4 separate regions of the Homo sapiens genome follow, and regions 1, 2 and 3 are each reported to be linked to region 4. Evidence: microRNA targets listed by miRTarBase, many of them from high-throughput screens and not tested one by one. Region 4 holds a microRNA gene; each other region holds the end of a gene's coding sequence.
The links. The annotated mature microRNA hsa-miR-603 reads CACACACUGCAAUUACUUUUGC and lies in region 4 at 1,090-1,111, opposite strand. An mRNA with a match to its seed (bases 2 to 7 or 8) in the 3' UTR can be bound and repressed. Matches are read on the target gene's strand: a 7mer-m8 pairs with bases 2 to 8, a 7mer-A1 pairs with bases 2 to 7 and ends in A, and an 8mer does both.

Region 1: the mRNA of KCTD16 is a reported target of hsa-miR-603. Seed matches in the 3' UTR shown: 7mer-A1 at 1,262-1,268.
Region 2: the mRNA of FGF9 is a reported target of hsa-miR-603. Seed matches in the 3' UTR shown: 7mer-m8 at 811-817, 7mer-A1 at 814-820, 7mer-A1 at 846-852, 7mer-A1 at 854-860 and 7mer-m8 at 2,382-2,388.
Region 3: the mRNA of DENND2C is a reported target of hsa-miR-603. Seed matches in the 3' UTR shown: 7mer-A1 at 2,210-2,216.

The regions. Positions count from the first base shown.
Region 1 is chr5:144,473,947-144,476,946 of GRCh38, reverse strand. KCTD16 (potassium channel tetramerization domain containing 16) reads right to left here. Exons shown (of 4, transcript NM_020768.4): 4 at 1-3,000. The coding sequence ends at 2,833. Among named protein-coding and RNA genes, the nearest start is that of KCTD16, 300 kb to the right of the region's middle.
Region 2 is chr13:21,700,890-21,703,889 of GRCh38, forward strand. FGF9 (fibroblast growth factor 9) reads left to right here. Exons shown (of 3, transcript NM_002010.3): 3 at 301-3,000. The coding sequence ends at 546. Among named protein-coding and RNA genes, the nearest start is that of FGF9, 31 kb to the left of the region's middle.
Region 3 is chr1:114,583,069-114,586,068 of GRCh38, reverse strand. It overlaps DENND2C (DENN domain containing 2C), which reads left to right. Exons shown (of 21, transcript NM_001256404.2): 21 at 438-3,000. The coding sequence ends at 469. All of the region lies in intron 2 of LOC105378914 (a long non-coding RNA gene), which reads right to left. Among named protein-coding and RNA genes, the nearest start is that of BCAS2, 3.0 kb to the right of the region's middle.
Region 4 is chr10:24,273,409-24,276,855 of GRCh38, reverse strand. MIR603 (microRNA 603) reads right to left here and starts at 1,171; the gene lies at 1,075-1,171. All of the region lies in intron 2 of KIAA1217, which reads right to left.

The DNA.
Region 1 (3,000 bases), not on the chromosome of region 4:
TATTAGCAATTTATGGCCCTTGTCATAACCAATGTTCGAGAAGTAAACCATATATATTGTTTTCTTCAGAATTAAACAAAAAGTTCTAAAAACTATTTTAACTTCAGGGAAACATGCCCGAGTCACAGTGACTACCAGAGTTACTAGAGCATGTACTCTTATAACTCACTTACCCAGAACTCATTTCCAGTGTTGCAGGCTACCTGGACCTCACTTGATAACTCCACTCAAACTAGGTACTTTAAGCCTCCTCAGAGCCTTTTACTGGCCAGGTCTATGTTCATTTCTATATAAACACTCACACAAATAAATGCCATGCTGTTGTCTTAGTTACTTGAATATTTTACCATGGGATGAGTGCCAGTCGAGAGGTGGCCCAGAATAAAAATATTGCTGTTGTGATGGTTTTAAACAGGTTTTCTATTCCAGCTTTGTTCACTGGATGTATAAGGAATGTCAGAGCAGAGAAAACTCATGACAGGTCAGGGGTCAGAGGAACACTGCCACGAACACTCCTTTTGCAGTGTTTAATTTCCTGTTTAAAGAATGTAGTAGAAATATTGGGTTGACTATCATCTTAATTCTTTACTCTTATAAGGGTATCTCTCTATCTTGAGGCCATTACAGTCAGGTCTGAAATTTAAGGAAGTTGGAACTTTGGCCATTTTAGTTAGACCCCCAAAGTCTTTGACAGTACTTCCAGTGACAACACAATAATCATTTGACCAAAGTGAGTTTCAGGATATTTTCCCCAAATTCAACTTCTTGACCCATTAAGCTCTGTGATTCTTTGCAAGATCTTCTGTTATTAGGATGATGGTATTGCCATGTGCTATCAAGAAACATTGAAAAGAATCAAGACATACTGGTAAGTTTACAAACAAAGCTATGTTGTAGTTAAGACCAAATATCTGCTAATATATTAATACAGAAAAGAATACCACTTAAATTCATAAATTATAATTCTCTTGACAACTCAACTCCCAAGATAAACTTTCTTTTTCACTTATGTAAAACTTTCAACTCCATTCAAACCTTCAGGACAAGGAAACATTAGCTGAGTCTGTCATCCTAGTGTGAAGGCGAGAATTACAAAAATTCAGAAAGATATTCATATACTAATCATCACTAAGAACAGAAATCAAGACAGAACATCTTACATAATAAATGTGCATCAATGAAAGATTTCAAAAGGAAGAAATTAGTCATTGTTTTCCTCCTACAGATATCATCCAATTGCCTTTATTACCTGTGATACACATACACACATGCACACACACGCAATAAAACAAATTAGGAGTGCTTGGCACACAACTATTAATTGACAAATTATTTTTTGGTTACCACTGAAATGCATGAGGAATGCTGAAAATAAAACTGGTCTTTTAACCTTCTTGTAGCACAAGTCTATGAAAGAGCTATTGGTACCTTAGTAAAATACAGAGTTACATGGACGGATGGCTATTAACAGTTTCTTTTTGGCTGTGTCTATACAAGTCAGGATGTAATTGAAAAAGATAGTTTCATTTAGAAATCTGAAACCTTAACTCTGGAGCTTCAGTTACCTTGTTGGGTTGTTACAGACATCATAAAAATGACACAGCTAAATCCTAGCATGGGCACAGCCAAAGCCCGAATCCCAAAGGCAAACAAAAACGGCTACAAGCAAGTAAAAATGTAGCTTTGTAGTTTAAAATTTTTATAAGAAATTATTAGGTTGTGTGTGGAATACAACTTTCTCTAAAACAAACAAAAGGCCGGACCCTTATTCAAGTACTGTGTGTTGTCCTTAGTTCCACAACAACACAGGAACACAGAACTTAATGTGGATTATGTGGAAAGGCCACACCATTAAACTGTGGGCAGTAAGAACTCTGAAAACATGGAGAAAAGGGTGATAATTCAGTTCAGGGTAGAGAAGGCTGAGTGTGGAGTCATTTAGCAGAAAATTTTGTGGATATGAATGTTTGATTTTTTTAACACAAGGAATGTTTGACCAGCTCTCCTCATCCTCTCTTAATGCAGACAAAGAGCAAAGCAGTAAAATGGAGCCTGAGGGTATTAATTTCACAATAAGGAATACAATTTGTTGATGATGAGAGTCATTTGATGTTAGAAAGTGTTGTGAAGAAAGGCTGGGAAATCTTCCCAAAAGAATTTTAAGAAAGAGTCAGAAGCTCATCCATCTGAAATATTCTAAGAGAGGGCTGCTGGGAGCAGGAGCACAGCCCTTGGGAGGTCTAGGCCCTGGCATCGTGTGCGTCATGTGTATATACATACTTAGTTGTGCTTGTGTTGCACAAATACTCATGCATACGGAGTCAATATAAACTGGCACATATAGATTTGAGTGAAAAGTCATATAAATCTGCCATTCCCCCCAACCCCATAAACAAAAGGAAAAACCAAAATTAAAAATTCCAAACTTATGCCATTGGGCCAGATCTTTTTCTACCATACCCTCATTCAAAGGAGGGAGGTAGAAGGATGAGAGAAAAAACCCAGTTTGGGATAAATGACTCCCAAGGCCTCTCAGCTACTTTTACGTAGCTGGCTCTCATTATATATAAGATAGTTAGCACATGGGACGAAGTAAACAAACAAATAACTAAAAAAGATTTTCTTGTACTTCCACATCTAGAAAGAAATCTACCCTGTGGATTTACATGTTAAGGTGAACTAGGTAAAGTAGGCAGTAGTATATCAATGGACTATTGTGTTCTAAGAAATGTGCATCATTAGTTGTATTTTTTTCCTTTAAAATATGAATTCCTTTTAGGAGGTTAATTTCAAAATGACTTTTTTTTTTCTTTTCCCGCCCCCAGCCCTCCCTTATAGATGATACTTCCTTAAAAGTTCAGATTGCCAAGGATGTTTTCTCTCAGGAAACCGATCTGGAATTTTGATTTTTAGGAAATCCTGGATACATTTCTCCAGCTCCTCCTCAATTGAGAGCTTTTCTTTAACAGCTTTTTTTTTGCTGCTCATGTTCGATTCCCT
Region 2 (3,000 bases), not on the chromosome of region 4:
TTAAAATGGTTAAAATGGGCTAAAACATCAGTGTTTTCTCATGGGGGTTATATTGTGTAGCAACGGAATGTTACTTTTAATATTGAATGTAGCTAATTATGCAACATATTTATTTACCTTTTTAAAAAATTTTAATTTTAATTTTTAGTTCTGGGGTACATGTGTAGGATGCGCAGGTTTGTTAAATAGATAAACGTGTGCCAAGGTGGTTTGCTGCACCTATCAATCCATCCCCTAGGTATTAAGCCCAGCATGCATTAGCTATTTTTCCTAATGCTCTCCCTCTTTTTCTTTTTACAGGAAAAACTAACCCAAGAGTGTGTATTCAGAGAACAGTTCGAAGAAAACTGGTATAATACGTACTCATCAAACCTATATAAGCACGTGGACACTGGAAGGCGATACTATGTTGCATTAAATAAAGATGGGACCCCGAGAGAAGGGACTAGGACTAAACGGCACCAGAAATTCACACATTTTTTACCTAGACCAGTGGACCCCGACAAAGTACCTGAACTGTATAAGGATATTCTAAGCCAAAGTTGACAAAGACAGTTTCTTCACTTGAGCCCTTAAAAAAGTAACCACTATAAAGGTTTCACGCGGTGGGTTCTTATTGATTCGCTGTGTCATCACATCAGCTCCACTGTTGCCAAACTTTGTCGCATGCATAATGTATGATGGAGGCTTGGATGGGAATATGCTGATTTTGTTCTGCACTTAAAGGCTTCTCCTCCTGGAGGGCTGCCTAGGGCCACTTGCTTGATTTATCATGAGAGAAGAGGAGAGAGAGAGAGACTGAGCGCTAGGAGTGTGTGTATGTGTGTGTGTGTGTGTGTGTGTGTGTGTGTATGTGTGTAGCGGGAGATGTGGGCGGAGCGAGAGCAAAAGGACTGCGGCCTGATGCATGCTGGAAAAAGACACGCTTTTCATTTCTGATCAGTTGTACTTCATCCTATATCAGCACAGCTGCCATACTTCGACTTATCAGGATTCTGGCTGGTGGCCTGCGCGAGGGTGCAGTCTTACTTAAAAGACTTTCAGTTAATTCTCACTGGTATCATCGCAGTGAACTTAAAGCAAAGACCTCTTAGTAAAAAATAAAAAAAAATAAAAAATAAAAATAAAAAAAGTTAAATTTATTTATAGAAATTCCAAAGGCAACATTTTATTTATTTTATATATTTATTTATTATATAGAGTTTATTTTTAATGAAACATGTACAGGCCAGATAGGCATTTTGGAAGCTTTAGGCTCTGTAAGCATTAAATGGCAAAGTCCGCTATGAACCTGTGGTAAATTCATGCAAGTAGATATAATGGTGCATGGATATAAGAAATTCTAATGACCCTAATGTACTAAAGGCGACAATCTCTTTTGTGCCCATATTATTGTAAACTTATGCACATCGCTCATGACACTGAGTATTCACTCTTCAGACTGCTTGTTTCATAGCTTATCCCAGAGGATTAAAGATAAACTGGGTCTCAAACTTTGATTCTGTGTCTGCAATATTTCCTCTCTCATAAGTGACTCCACTATTGTAACTTCATGGTTGGAAAATATGAGGGTTGATATATGTCTTACTTGTTTAAATCTGTCGCAGAATATACCAAAGCTAAATAATAACTATGCTTTCATTTTAGCCGATCTCCAGAATGACAGTATTAACATCAAACATTGTATTGATTTAGAATTCTCAAAAAAGGAAAAAAAAGTACATAGCACAGACTATTTTTTTTAAAGACGTAAGAATCAGATTAACAGGATCATACTTGTAAACTTTTTTTGGTTCACTTGGCTATCAAATATGAAATTATAGAAGTATCATAGGGGTCATTGTAACATCTTTTAGAGAAAATGGCTATCAGTGTGAACTGTCATAATTACGTGGTAATAGCACCCTTAGTAAAACTTGCAAAATGAAACTAATAAATCGTTATCAATAATGACAATGAGGGGGAAAGTATTATACTTGTTGACTGTGTTTTGTTTTTTAAAATGGTCTCCACAAGCGCTCAATTTTTTTAGAGGGGATATTACTATATAGAATATCTTTTACAAGGCTTTTATAACATTTTATGCTGAAAAGCATAAGAATACGTATTTCTTTAGTAGCAATAATTTTGGAACTTGCCCTTGGGCAAGCGAGACTATTTCTTACTATATACTAAGGAGAAAAGAGCCAAATTCTTAAAGCAATATTTAAGAAAAAAGGAATTTATAACAAATTCTCATCTACATATGACACTTTCTAGCCAGTTGTGTTGAGAAGTGCAAAGTGACGGTTTAAACATGTGTTGGGATTTATTGAACTAATTTTAAAATTTACTATTCAAACTTTATTTTGCTCTGATGCACATTCTCTATGAAAAATAAAAGTGTGTCACTGGTGAGTGACAGCTGTTATGAGCTAGAAGCGCATGACTTATTGTGACGATGTCTTGCCTTTCTGTGGTCCAAGTTGGAGTACATGGCAATGCCCTCCTGCTGATGTGCATTAAGGAAAATCTAAGTCTAATATTTGGAATTAAGATATATTTTAGGGGGAGGGGACAGAAGCAATGTAAAATAGTTGATTTATGATAAAGCTCAGAATGTCCTCTTCATTTATTTTCTTGTTTTATTTTCCTTTCTAAACAGAAACTGCATTTAATTCCAAAAAGTAGTATTCTTATTTATTATTTAACCCTTTGCTGCTGCTAAAATGTGCACATATTCAGGCTTTAGTTTTTCCAAAAGGCATTTTTTTTTTGGCTGAAAAATATTAAACATTTGACCACAGGGAAGAATCAAGTTTCTAGGATGTCATAGGTATACTATGTAGCACTGAAAAAATTGATTTTAGGTGACAGCCAAAAGTAGTCTTAAAGTAGCATGAGACCTTAGATAATCGACCTAAAAGAAAGAAAATTGTGAAAAAGACAAAAATCTTCATGCATTCCTATAAAACGCTACTTTAAGGTCTACTTTTGGAGTTAATTTTGTTTGGTACTTTT
Region 3 (3,000 bases), not on the chromosome of region 4:
TCCTTCACTAGCTGACAGACCATGGACAAATTAGGCCTTAGGCTGTTATTTCATCTTTATACAATGGGGTTAGATTAGATCAGTGGTTCCCAGCTCTGACTACATTTTATAATTTCCAGAGAACTTAAAAAAAATTTTCCCCTGGGCTCCAGGAAATCTCTGGGGAGAAGCCAGGTGATTTTAACCTATAGTCAAGGTTGAAAACCACTGGATTACATGATGTCTGAGTTCTTTTCTGCCGCTACAATTAACTAGACATATGGGGTTTGGGGTTCATTTTTGTTTTTGTTTTGGGGGTTAAACACATCAACTGAGTTTGAGATGTCAGCTTAACTCTTGGGCTGTTCTGAATGACTGACCTGTTAATCCCTTACCTCAAATAATGTACAATAAATAAAAATGAATTGAGCATTCACTGTACTTTTCTTTCCCTTTAGGAAGCAAAATGAAATTTCTGCAAAAGAAATGAAATCTCTGATTGTCTCCATCCTGAATATACAACAGAAAGTGCCAAAGAAAATATTTTTCTAAGGGTCAGGATCCCATGAAGTATTCTACAAAATTCTTGAAATTTTAAAAGGTTAAAGAGCGAGTCAGGCTGTTAGAGGAGGATTCTCCTGTTGCTGCTGTAGTAATCACTGGAGAATTGTTGGGAATGGTCTGGCACCATGCCATCTTTACTCTGTCTCCATTTTTTTTTTATAGCAGCCTTTTCTATGTGATTCTTGGGCTCATTCTCTGTTTTGTGCTTTGTCTGTGAAAGTAGTTGTGTTTCACAAGGAAAAGCCTTGTTGTTGTTACATTTAAAAAATAGCTCAAAGATGAGAATAATGAGAGAAATGCTGAGTTTAAGGTAGTAGAGAGACATGATGGAAATGGAGAACACTAGCCTTATACACATAATTCTCATCACTGAACTATCATGGCCCCTTTAAACCCATGGGCTGTTTGACCTGGGCTAAGGAATAGACTCATCACATATCTCCATTGTTTTGCCTTATATTATATCTAGGGGAATCTCACTTAGGAGGAAGCCCTACTTGTAATATTATAAGGTACTGTTATTAAGTACCTTATAAAATTAGACATCTTGCAACTCCTCCTCCAAATTATGTGGCATTTGAGTAGTTTGCTTGTGCCTCACATGTCAACATTAAACTTTGTGGAGGCTGGATGCAGTGGCTCACACCTGTAATCTCCACCACTTTGGGAGGCTAAGGCAGGAGTTTGAGGGTGGGAGTTTGAGACTAGCCTGGGCAACATAGCAAGATCCCATCTCTACAAAAACATTTTAAAAATAAGTAAATAAATTTAAACTTTGTGAAATTATAGCTAATATGAAAATGTCCTTTCAAGGGCATGGGAGCCACCTTTATTTTTTAGTGTCCACCATGTGCCATGCACTGTGGTATATGTATGCATATCATCTCAACCAATCCTTAAATCAACCTTATGAGATAGATATTTGCATCTCCATTTTACTAATAAACTGAGGCTGGGTGCTATGGCTCACGTCTGTAATCCCAGCACTATGGGAGTCCAAGGCGAGTGGATCATTTGAGGTCAGGAGTTCGAGACCAGCCTGGCAACATGGTGAAACTCTGTCTCTACTAAAAATACACACAAAAAATTAGCTGGGTGTGGTGGCAGGTGCCTGTAATCCTGGCTGCTCGGGAGGCTGAGCCATGAGAATCGCTTGAGCCCAGGAGGCAGAGGTTGCAGTGAGCCGAGATCGCGCCACTGCATTCCAGCCAGGGTGACAGAGCGAGACTCCATCTCAAAAAAAAGAAAAAAGGAAAAGAAAAAAGAAAAAAACAAATTCAAAGAAGTTAAATACGTTGCCCAAAGTTGTACAACACAGAACTGAAGCCAAGACTTTTATGGACACAGAAAAAGTTGGTTAGTCCTACAGATGGAAATTTCATCTCAGTAGGATTATATAGCTATTTCTTTTATTAATAAAAATTTTCTATTAAGTGTACCAGAGCCACTTTTCAGCTCTGAGGATAAGGAACTTTATAGGTGCCTAGATGAGACTCTTTTTATTCCCCTAGAAATGTTGAAATTTTTGCTCTAATTAAATTAGACTCAAAATATGAACATTCCTTGAACATATACCACTTAGTCATCCAGACCTTTAATATCTAAAGTAGTAGTAGTAGTGATTGGAAAGAGAAAGTTTTCAGTGATGGTGCAGTGTTTTTTTTGTGTGTGTATGTGTGTGTGTGTGTGTTTTGTTTCGGTTTTTTTTTTTTTTTTTTGAGATGGAGTTTCGCTCTTTTTGCCCAGGCTGGAGTGCAATGGTGTGATCTCGGCTCACTGCAACCTCCGCCTCCCGGCTTCAAGCAATTCTCCTGCCTCAGCCTCCTGAGTAGCTGGAATTATAGGCACCCGCCACCACACCTGGCTAATTTTGTACTTTTAGTGGAGACGGGGGTTTCACCATGTTGGCCAGGCTGGTCTCGAACTCCTGACCTCAGGTGATCCACCCACCTTGGCCTCCCAAAGTGCTGGGATTACAGGCATGAGTCACTGCACCCGGCCTGTGTGTGTGTGTGTGTGTGTGTGTGTGTGTTTTCAAACTCATGGGCAAATTCAAGTTCAGATGGTGCACTTTTCATTGATTAATGTTATAGCAAATGTCAGTTTGTTTTCTTCAGTTTCTGCTGATGGTTTTAACTGGCACAGAAAGTATTTATTCAACCTTACAAAACTGTGTAAGTTGTATTGTGATACAGTTTATTGACTTGTACAGTATTGTCATTACAACCCATTCAGGTATGCATGAATCTGAAGCAGAACACCATTTAAGACTGGTGCTGTATAATATAATTCCTACAGATGTGGGTCCAGGGAATAGAACTGAGCCTGTCTTTTTTTTAATGTTAAGCAGGTTACCCCCAGTGGGGCTTCTACTAGACATCTCTCCATTTGGTCTCTTCTTACACTCCAACCCAGCAGGAACAGTTAATAATTGGATGTTTATAAAATGGGGGTAAA
Region 4 (3,447 bases):
CGGACGGATCACAAGGTCAGGAGTTCCAGACCAGCCTGGCCAATATGGTGAAACCCTGTCTCTACTAAAAATACAAAAATTAGCTGGGCGTAGTAGCACATGCTTGTAGTCCCAGCTACTCAGGAGGCTGAGGCAGGACAATCACTTGAACTTGAGAGACAGAGGTTGCTGTGAGCCGAGATCGCGCCACTGCACTACGGCCTCGGTGACAAAGTGAGATTCCATCTCAGAAAAAAAAAAAAAAAAAGCTGGACTTGATGGCATGTGCCAGTAGTTCCAGCTACTAGGGAGGCTGAGGTGGGAGCATCACTTGAGTCCAGGACTTCAAGGTTACAGGGGCTATGATTGTGCCACTGCACTCCAGCCTGGGTGACAAAGCGAGACCCTGTCTCTTAAAAATTTTTTGTTTTTAAATTCAAACCCAGTTTTCCTCAGGACTCTTATTAACAGCTATCTAAGGAATAGGAAGGGATGCCCTCAAACCGGGCAGAACGAGATGGAATTCTAAGTCATTTTGTCTTTTGCATTTCTGAAAAGACTTTCATTTTTCAAAGGACATCAAAACTGAAATGCCTTATAAATCCCTTTGTGTTTCTGCGTTCTGTTCAATGGCATCAATAAGATGGATGATCAGCAAATGGCATCAAACTCCATTTGTATTCTTATTAGAATAATAACACGTAAAATGATATGAAATGAAACAGCAGATTCCAATGACCTTGTAGCCCAATTCAATTACTATTTCACTAAATAACGACAAAACTGACAGTCCTCAAGCTGCTGAATTTATGAATTAAATTCAACTTCTCTTCTACATTCTGAGCAGGACTGAGTGGAAAAAGAAATGGTCAGTGAGGACTGGGGAGGAGTTTCCTTCTCTTTGCTATTTAATGCAACATCGCCAAGCCCACTGGAGGGAGGGGTATGGAAAGACAGTTTAAAAAGGAATATCAGGACCAGAAGGGAGAACTGATGGCCAGGGCCCTTGCTATAGTTTGCTCCTGCAGATGAGACACTGCTTTGGAAAATTTTATCATTAACCAAACTGCACTGATGCTAAAAGTCAATAAAGCCAAGTATTAAGTTGGAGCAAAAGTAATTGCAGTGTGTGCCATTACTTTTAAATGGGAAGCACTGCAATTACTTTTGCACCAAACCAACAGCATCAATCTTGCCTGCATCTTAAGCAAAGGCTTAATGAGAAAAAAAACATACTTGAGACTACTAAAGCATTATACAGTCAGTCCTCATTACTAGCAGATTCTGTATTTGTAAATATGCCCATCACCTAAAATCTGTTTGTGACCCTCAAATTAATACTCCCAAATGTTTGCAGTCATCATAGACATGGCAGGACAGTGGACAACTGGAGTTTCCCAACAAGCACGTTCCCAGGTGGCGTCTAACTAAACAACACTCTGCTTTTTTGTTTCAGTTTTCATACTGTAAGGAAGCACCCTTTCCACAGTCTTTTTAGTGCCACAAGTTTCGCATTTTTGTGTCTTTTTGTGTCTGTGTGTGCACCTGCATGCGTGTATGTGTGTGTGAGTGACTTCACTATTTAAAATGGTCCAAGCCAGGTGCAGTGGCTCATGCCTGAAATCCCAGCACTTTGGGAGGCTAAGGCAAGAGAATTGCTTTGTGACAGGAGTTCAAGACCAGCCTGGAATATACTAGTCATGTTCATTGGGGAATTAAGACCTCAAAAACATAGCCAGACCCTGCCTCTACAAAAAAATAAAATTAAAAAATTAGCTGGGCATGGTGGCGTGTGCCTGTAGTCCCAGATATTTGGGAGGCTGAGGTGGGAAGATCACTTGAGCCCAGGAGTTTGAGGCTCCAGTGAGTTGTGATTGTGTCACTGCACTCCAGCCTGGTCAAGAGGGCGAGACCCGGCATCTACAAATTTTTTCTTTAAATAAGAAAAGAGAATAAATTTTAAAAATAAGAAATAAAATGAAATGGCCCTTAAGTATGGTGTGGAAGTACTATTTGGCATTCCTAGGCTCAAGAAGGCTGTGATACACCTTACACAAAAAATAAGTGCATTAGATAAGCTTAGTTCAATGCTAATGAATCAATAATATATATTTTAAAAGGTGTCTTCAAACAAAAACACAGGTAAAATAAGGATTTTTGTTGATTGGTTGATAAAAAGGTAACCAAAGACTCACAGGAACCTAACCCTGTATTTCCCCTAGGAAATTCAGTATTAACTAATAAATTCAGGACTCACTAATGCAGTATTTAGGGCAAGTTTATAGAACATCAATACTGTGAATAACAAGAATTGACTGTATTTTCAAACTGCAGTAAAAATGCCATAAGTATGTAAAATAGGACTTGTAGGAAGACAACAAAGTATATTTAGATGTAGCAGGTTCATCTTTTTTACTTTTTTTGCAGATGTGAGAACTTGACAATTTCTAACCACTGGACTTAGAATGGAGAACACAGCCAATCTGGGTGACAGAGCAATATTCCGTCTCAAAAAAAAAAAAAAATTAGCTGGACTTGGTGGCATGCACCAGTAGTTCTAGTTACTTGGGAGGCTGAGGTGGCTGGTCATGAACTCCTGACCTCAAGTCTCCCAAAATGCTGGGATTATAGGTGTGAGCCATTGTGCCTGGCCAGCAATGGCAATATTTTCTTACTACCAACTCTCAGAAAACATACATTATTCTCCATAATTATCCAATAAATTTGGACCCATCTGAAAATAAGCATCAGTCACTTTTCAGTTTATACATGTATGCTATTAGTCATTACTCTGGTAATATGTGAAATGTAAATCATTGCCTTATTACTTACTGGATATGGGCTGTTTTTTGGTTGAGGTATGCGTCTAATTTATTGGTACTACATTAGAAAATGCCCTACACCAAATATCTGCTCTGATTGGACTAAGATCCTACATTTTTATATTTGGGAATATTGCTCAACTTGAGAAAGGCAAGATGTCCCAATCCCTGCAACAGTAACTTGGACTTTTTTTTTTTTTTTGAGACAGAGTCTTGTTCTGTCGCCCAGGCTAGAACACAGTGGCACGATCTCGGCTCACTGCAACCTCCATCTCGTGTGCTCAGGCGATTCTCCAGCCTCAAGCCTCCCGAGTAGCTGTGATTACAGGCATGTGCCACCACACCCGGCTGATATTTGCATTTTTAGTAGAGACAGGGTTTCACTATGTTGGCCAGGCTGGTCTCGAACTCCTGACCTCAGGTGATCCACCCACCTTGGCCTCCCAAAGTGCTTGGATTACAGGCATGAGCCATGGCGTCCAGCCAATAACTTGGACTTCTAATTAAAGATGTGACGTGGGCCAGTTATGCATAGAGGTAAGCCAAGGGCCTCTTATGTGACACCCTCACTGGACTGGGACAGATTCTGCCATGTCATTTACCTTGAGTACTCCAAAAGGAAGAACATAAAAATAATAATGTAATG